Homo sapiens: one gene and its partner. The protein of the gene in region 1 interacts with the protein of each later gene in a pairwise test. Each region holds a gene or a part of one and is shown in the gene's direction. Other genes may lie near its edges.

What was found.
Region 2: the proteins of ASL (region 1) and OVGP1 interact in a two-hybrid assay, tested with the Homo sapiens proteins (one large-scale study listed by BioGRID and IntAct).

What each region holds. Positions count from the first base shown.
Region 1 is NC_000007.14:66,082,207-66,086,226, forward strand, and holds part of ASL (argininosuccinate lyase), read left to right. Parts: intron 1-161; coding exon 162-245; intron 246-673; coding exon 674-730; intron 731-870; coding exon 871-968; intron 969-4,020.
Region 2 is NC_000001.11:111,417,736-111,421,235, reverse strand, and holds part of OVGP1 (oviduct-specific glycoprotein precursor), read left to right. Parts: intron 1-1,507; exon of another isoform or gene 1,508-1,509; coding exon 1,510-1,626; exon of another isoform or gene 1,627-3,500. UniProt on the Homo sapiens protein: Binds to oocyte zona pellucida in vivo. May play a role in the fertilization process and/or early embryonic development.

The sequences.
Region 1 (4,020 bases):
GTGTGCTGGGCCTGAGATGCCCCCTCCCAGGGTGCGCTTCCAGGACTCAGCTCCTGGGCAGGGACAGTCAGTCACCAGGGATAGGGTGGGACCAAGGCAGGGGCTCTCTTGGCTGCTGATGCCTGCTCACCTGACCCCGGCATTGCTGCTACCCACTACAGGTGGCTGAGGAGTGGGCCCAGGGCACCTTCAAACTGAACTCCAATGATGAGGACATCCACACAGCCAATGAGCGCCGCCTGAAGGTACGACCCCTGGAGCCCCACCGCTTTCCTTGCCTCCCCTCTCCACCTTGCCCAGGGCCACTTTGAGCATTAGCACCATTCTGTTTACTTCGCCATTGGCAGACAGCATGTGAGACCTCAGGACATGAGCCAGGCACCCTGGCTCATGCCTATAATCCTAGCACTTTGGGAGGCTGAGGTGGGAGGATTGCTTGAGACCAGGAGTTCGAGACCAGCCTGGGCAACATAATGAGGTCCCACAGCTACAAAAATTAAAAAAAGAAAAGAAAAAAAGAACAGGCCTCAGCAGAAATGGCGAGAGATTTGGGGAGGACCCGGAGCCCTGGGGTATGGAGGTAGGTTGGCAGGGCTGATGAGGAAAACTGCCCTGCCTGGGTTGACTCCTCTGGGGGTATAGACCGTGACCCTGGGTCTCCCTTCACCTCCAGGAGCTCATTGGTGCAACGGCAGGGAAGCTGCACACGGGACGGAGCCGGAATGACCAGGTGCTTTAGCCCCTCCACCCCCTGCTCCGTGTTGTCCCAACCTTGAGGAGCCCAGGGGGCAGTTAGAGTTCTGCAGCGGTCCTGGCTCCTCAGGGAAGCAACACATCGGCCTCCCTGAGCACCATCTCCTCCTTGCACAGGTGGTCACAGACCTCAGGCTGTGGATGCGGCAGACCTGCTCCACGCTCTCGGGCCTCCTCTGGGAGCTCATTAGGACCATGGTGGATCGGGCAGAGGCGTGAGTCCTACAGGGACACCCAGGGGGCAGACAGAGGTGTGATGGAAGCCTGAACAGGAGACCTAGGGGGCAGGGGTGAACAGCGTGGGGGTGCCAGGCCCTGGGGGACAGGGGCATCCCAGAACTCCAGGATCGAGGCAGAGCAGCCAGGAGTGGGCCATTTCCTGCAGGCCCCAATACTCCCATGCCAGTCTAGCTCAGCAGGCAGAGAAGACTAACCCTTCGTGGGGCTGGGTGCGGTGGCTCACGCCTGTAATCTCAGCACTTTGGGAGGCCGAGGTGGGTGGATCACCTGAGGTCAGGAGTTCGAGACCAGCCTGGCCAACATGGGAAAACTCTGTCTCTACTAAAAATACAAAAATTAGGCAATGTGGTGGTGTGCGCCTGTAATCCCAGCTACTCGGGAGCCTGAGGCAGAAGAACTGCTTGAACCCGGGAGGAGGAGGTTGCAATGAGCCGAGATCGCGCCATTGCACTCCAGCCTGGGCTACAGAGCGAGACTCCTGTCTCAAAAAAAAAGAAAAAAAAAAAAGAAAACTCACCATTTGCAGATTTGAAGGCAGGAAGCTAAGCCAAGCACAGCTAGCTTGGCTGTGCCTGGAGCAGCCAGAGTCACTCCCCACACTGCCTGTCCCCCAGATCCCCCATCCTAAGCTTCGCCTCCCCATCCAGCCCATCTGGCAAAAGACAGAGCCAAAGGCTGCCTCCTGCTGGCCTCATTTCAGGCTTTGGCTTCTGGGACCTGGTGTCTTTGGGACTGGATTTGTTCCTTGCAGACCTGGACGAAGAGCTGCTGAGAAGTCTCCATGTGTTGTCAGAGACCCCTCCTCTTCCTCAACTCCCTGTGACCCCTGTTGTGCAGACTTGGGGGAAAACAAGGGCACAAGAATTGTCACCCAGCAGGTGGTGTGGGGCTGCTAGGAGGAACAGGGAGTGTCTGCTACTGAGTTCAGGGTTTCTTTAATTTTTTGTTGTTGTTGTTTGTTGTTGTTTTTTTTTTTTTGAGACAGGGTTTTGCTCTGTCACCTAGTCTGGAGTGTAGTGGCGCTATCTGAGCTAACTGCAAACTCTGCCTCCTGGGTTCAAGTGATTCTAGTGCCTCAGCCTCCCAAGTAGCTGAGATTACAGGTGTGCACCACCATGTCCAGCTAATTTTTGTATTTTTTTCAGTAGAGATGGGTTTTGCCATGTTGACCAGGCTGGTCTTGAACTCCTGAGCTCAGGTGATCTGCCCGCGTCGGCCTGCCAAAGTGCTAGGATTACACCCATAAGCCACTGCGCTCAGCTTAATTTTTAAATTTTTAACTTTTTAAATTGTCTTTAGAGATGAGATCCTGCTCTGTCACCTAGGCTGGAGTGCAATGGCTTGGTAATAGCTCACTGCAGTCTCAAACTCCTGGACTCAAATGATCCTCCCACCTCAGCTTTCTGAGTAGCTAGGACCACAGGTGTGCACCACCTGTGAGACAGAGTCTTGCTCTGTTGCCCAGGCTGGAGTGCAGTGGCGTGATCTCCACTCACTGCAACCTCTGCCTCCCAGGTTCACGCCATTCTCCTGCCTCAGCCTCCCGAGTAGCTGGGAGTACAGGTGCCCACCACCACGCCCGGCTAATTTTTTGTATTTTTAGTAGAGACGGGGTTTCACCATGTTAGCCAGGATGGTCTCAATCTCCCGACCTCATGATCCACCCACCTCGGACTCTCAAAGTGCTGGGATTACAGGTGTGAGCCACCGTGCCCAGCCGCGAATTCTTTAAATTTTTTGTAGAAACAGGGTCTCACTATGTGGCTCAGGCTGGTCTCAAACTCCCGGCCTTAAGTGATCCTTCCCTCTTGGCCTCCCAAAGTGCTGGGATTAAAGACTTGAGCCACCGTGCCTGGCCTTGAGTACAGAATTTCTTCATGGGGTGATGAAAATGTTCTAAAATTGGTTGTGGTGATGGTTGTACAGTAAAGTGTAAACTTTAAATGAGTAAATTGTGAATGATATCTCAGTAAAGCTGGTTTATTTAAAACAACAGGCCAGGTGCTGTGGCTCACGCCTGTAATCCCAGCACTTTGGAAGGCTGAGGCGGGTGAATCACCTGAGGTCAAGAGTTCGAGACCAGCCTGGCCAACATGGTGAAACCCCATCTCTACTAAAAATACACAAAATTAGCTGGGTGTGATGGTGGGCACCTGTAGTCCCAGCTACTTGGGAGGCAGGAGAATCTCTTGGACCTGGGAGGTGGAGGTTGTAGTGAGCCGAGATCACGCCACTGCATTCCAGCCTGGGCAACAAGAGCGAAACTCTTTCTCAAAAACAACAACAACAAAAAAACAGGCCAGGTATGGTGGCTCATATCTGTAATCCCAGCCCTTTGGGAGGCCAAGGCAGGAGGACTGCCTGAAACCAGGAGTTTCAGACCACTCTGGGCAACATAGCAAGACCCCATCTTTTTTTTTTTTTTTGAGACGGAGTCTCGCTCTGTCGCCCAGGCTGAAGTGCAATGGTGCAATCTCAACTCACTGCAAGCTCTGCCTCCTGGGTTCATGCCATTCTCCTGCCTCAGCCCTCCTGAGTAGCTGGAACTACAGGCGCCCACCACTACGCCCGGCTAATTTTTTGTATTTTTAGTATAGATGGGGTTTCACCGTGTTAGCCAGGATGGTCTCGATCTCCTGACCTTGTGATCTGCCCGCCTCGGCCTCCCAAAGTGCTGGGATTACAGGCGTGAGTTACCGCGCCTGGCCACAAGACCCCATCTTTACAAAAAACTAAAAATTAGCTGGGCATGGTGGCATGTCCCTTTAGTCCCAGCTACTCAGGAGGCTGAGACAGGAGGATCGCTTGAGCCCAGGAGATCGAGGCAGCAGTGAGCTATGATCATGCCACTGCACTCCAGTCTGGGCAACAGAACGAGACCTTGTCTCTAAAAATAAAAACAAAACAAAACAACAAGAAAACAGGACCATCACTCACAGCACCTCTGCCTCTGCCCTGCCTACTTGAATGAGGTGCAGGGCATCTCACCTGCTCAGAGCAGCCCTTGAATGAGCCCCAGCTATTTCT
Region 2 (3,500 bases), on another chromosome or scaffold:
CCCACCCCCAGCTGGAGCAAAGGCCAGGACAAGGGGCAATGGCAAGGGTGAGAGCTGTAGACAGGGCAAAGAGGTGGTCTATTAGTACAAGAGAAACCCACTCTCTGGGATATTTTCTTTTTCTTTGAGGTAAGTTATTTGAGTCCTTTGTAAGGGACGAAGGACTTGGTGGAATCTGGATGGAAGGGTTTCATTGCACCCCAAAAATGATCTTATATGCTATACAGGTAAACCCTGACTTTCTGTATGGCCTAAATAAAAATCATTAATATTTGCAATATATATAATTTCAAACATATGCAAAATTAAAAGAATAGTATAGCCTCTGTACCTCCCCCACATACTACTCACTCAGCTTCAATCATTAATAATTCATGGCCAATTTTGTCTCATCTCTGCTGGCTCCCTCCCTCCCTACTACTAGATGATTTTGAAGCAATTCCAAGACATTATCTACTACAGGTTCTTTCTCTCCACTCCAGCTCTACCCTCTTCATCTTCGTCTCAACCAAGCTTGCTATTGGGTGGCGGAAAGAGACATGTTTCCAAGGGAATGTAACCACCAGAGGTGGCAATACGAGCCACATAACTGTGTGGCTGTAGTGACCTGGAAAGGTCTTATGGAGCAGGTAGAGTTTGAGCAGAGTTTGAAGCACAGGAAAATCCTGATGGACAGGAATGACTAGACGGGAAGGACTTCCCAGGTAGAGGACAGCAGGTACAGAGGGACAGGGTGAGTACTTTAGGCAGTAGTGGAGGTGCTGCAAGTCTCTCCAATCTCTGCTCTGCGCTGGATGGATGAGGGTGTTTTTCTAACCCAATGAAGCATTTTTATGAGTGCTGGCATAGTTGAAACAATGTTCTTGAAGGGCAAAGAAGCTTTGATAGACAGACCCTTTGAAGCACCAAAGGAGAAAAGGAATGGCTTAGACATTAACTTCTGCAGCACAGCTTGCGTACCTCTACTTTTTTGCAGCATATAGTTTTTAGCACAATGCTGGGCACTCAGTGGACACTCAAATGCTTAATTATTTATAGCAACCTAGTTCTCCCTGCCTTCAAGAACTTTAAATCTACTAGAAGTTCAGGTGCTAGTTTGAGAACCACCTATATGGGGCAGTCTGTGCTGGGATCTAATGAACAGGAGAGACTTGTTTATGAAAACACTTTGAATGAGATACAGATTTGGTCAAGGATCATGTATGTTACTCTTACTATTTTGGTACTGGCATTATACCCCTGGCTTGGTTTCTTAAGGATGTCATCCACTCTTTGGTTCCCTTTTTTCCATCATGGACAGTAGAGAGAGGAAAGGGTAACAGTAGGAATTTATTCAAAATAGAGAGGAACTCATTTGTGAGTGGCCTCTCCATTCTCTCTTTGGTTTACCTTCTTCTCATTCGCTGGTTAGGGATTCTTGGATTCTTTATCCTTGGGCAAGGAACAACTGTCTCTTGGTGCTTATCTCCATGGCACTTCCCAGAACTAACCTGGTGGTCCTCTTGGCAGATTTGTTCCTTTGTCTGGGGAGCGAAGAAGCACTGGATTGATTACCAGTATGTCCCGTATGCCAACAAGGGGAAAGAGTGGGTTGGCTATGACAATGCCATCAGCTTCAGTTACAAGGTGAGACCCTGGCTCTTTCATGCTCCAGCACATGGTTTCCTACCGGTTTCTATGGGGTCCTTATTTGTACAATGCATGTATGTGTATTGGGTGGAGAGTGAAAGGTGAGGATGATTAGACCAGGGGTTTCAGGCATGCCTACATTTTAGTTCTAACTGGGGCTTTATAATCCCATCTGTTCCAAGTCTCTATTCTGAAGAGAAAGAATCTAGGTTCTGAGGGAATAAATAGTTCCCTCAGTTCTTACAGCTTTTCGATGATCTTTTTGGTCTCTTCCTTTCCATTTGGACCAGCTAATTTCATAACAGATAAATACCAACACAAAGTAGATCATGGTAAGTGCTCTGTAAATATTACTGACATGTAGCAGAAATGAGGAAGTCTGGGAGGGCTTCCTGAGGGAGGTGAGCAGGAGTAGGAGAAGATTATGACATTGGGGAAAGGCTCAGTGGTGTAGAAAGCTTATAGCAGGTTCAAAGAAGAATTTGGGTGAAGCAGAGGCTTTTTATAAAGGGACTTGAATGCTGGTAAAGGTGTTCAGTCTTCATCCTGTGGGCATTTTAAGGCAAAAACAGGTTTCTACAGGTGGATGACCTTTAATTTTCAAACTTTTAGAGCCAAACTATGACCACCACCCTCCCTTCATGTAAGTGGTATTTTATGAAGTTGAATCTGGCAGGTTTTTATAGTGAACTAAAAGAGAACTGACATGCTCCAGTAGTTCCTAAACCTGCCTCTGTTTTGGAATCACCTGAGAGACTGGATACATGTAGAAATCATGGTTCCACTCCTCAATATTCAGTAGGTCTTAGAAAAACTTTGGAAACTATTTTAGAATGCCTCCATATATGATCCTTCCAAATGCTAAGTTGGCATTTTGGGAGCTCTGGGCGTGGACACAGAGGTGTCCAAGCATGAGATAATGAGGGTCTGGACTAGGGTAGTTGGAAGGAGCAGCAGTTTAAAGGTGAGAAATTGTCGGAATGTGGCAACTGCTTGGATATTGAGACTTAAATAGAGAGAATTCACAGTTCTCCTGTTAACGGTGATGCAGAAATGGCAGGTGTCGGCTGTTTTTTGGGGGAAGTTTGTGTGGGAAGCACCAGAGAGGAAGGCACTCATGAAGATTCACTGCGTAGCTCCTCTGTGCATTAACACTGGGTGAGGCCTGCTGGGGCGGAGAGAGATAAAAAAGCATGGCTTCTCCCCTCTGGGATCTTGCTCTGTGGTTTGGGAATGGGAAGACACAAACAGGAAAGATTAATGACTCAATGGATTTACCCAATTGGATGGAGTTAAGTCTATGACCCATAGGACATCAGAGAGGGGATTGATCCCTTGTGTTGGGTGAGGCCCTGGGATGAGCAGCAGAGGGTGGTCTTGCTTTGAGGTGCAGTTACTGTAACTTGCAGAACTAGGTGAGGAGACATGAAGCCAGGTTGGGGATGGTTAAGGGATTTTGACATAGAATATCAGAGCTAAAAGAGACCTTGGGGATTATTGTTGGGAGATAATTATACCCTGGATTTCTCAGAGTTCCTGCACAGTTTGAGGATTCTGGGCAAAGGAAGCAGACAAGCTTTACTAAAAATAGAGAGCTGCTTTCCTCTTTCCCCCAGAGCCATTTGTTTACCTTCAATGATTGTGAAAGTCCCCTTCCCAGGGAGGACTTGTTTACATTCCAGGTTCTCTCCTCTCTCTGGAAGGGAGGAGGGCCACATATGTCAACCATTCTATATAAGCTCTGAGTCTCATAATTTCAGAGTTCTTCTCTGTAGCGCAGACCCCACTGCATATGCAGGTGAATTGAACATCTGACCTTCATCACATTGTCCTTGGGACATGGAAACTGACTCAAGGTGCTATTCTGGCTA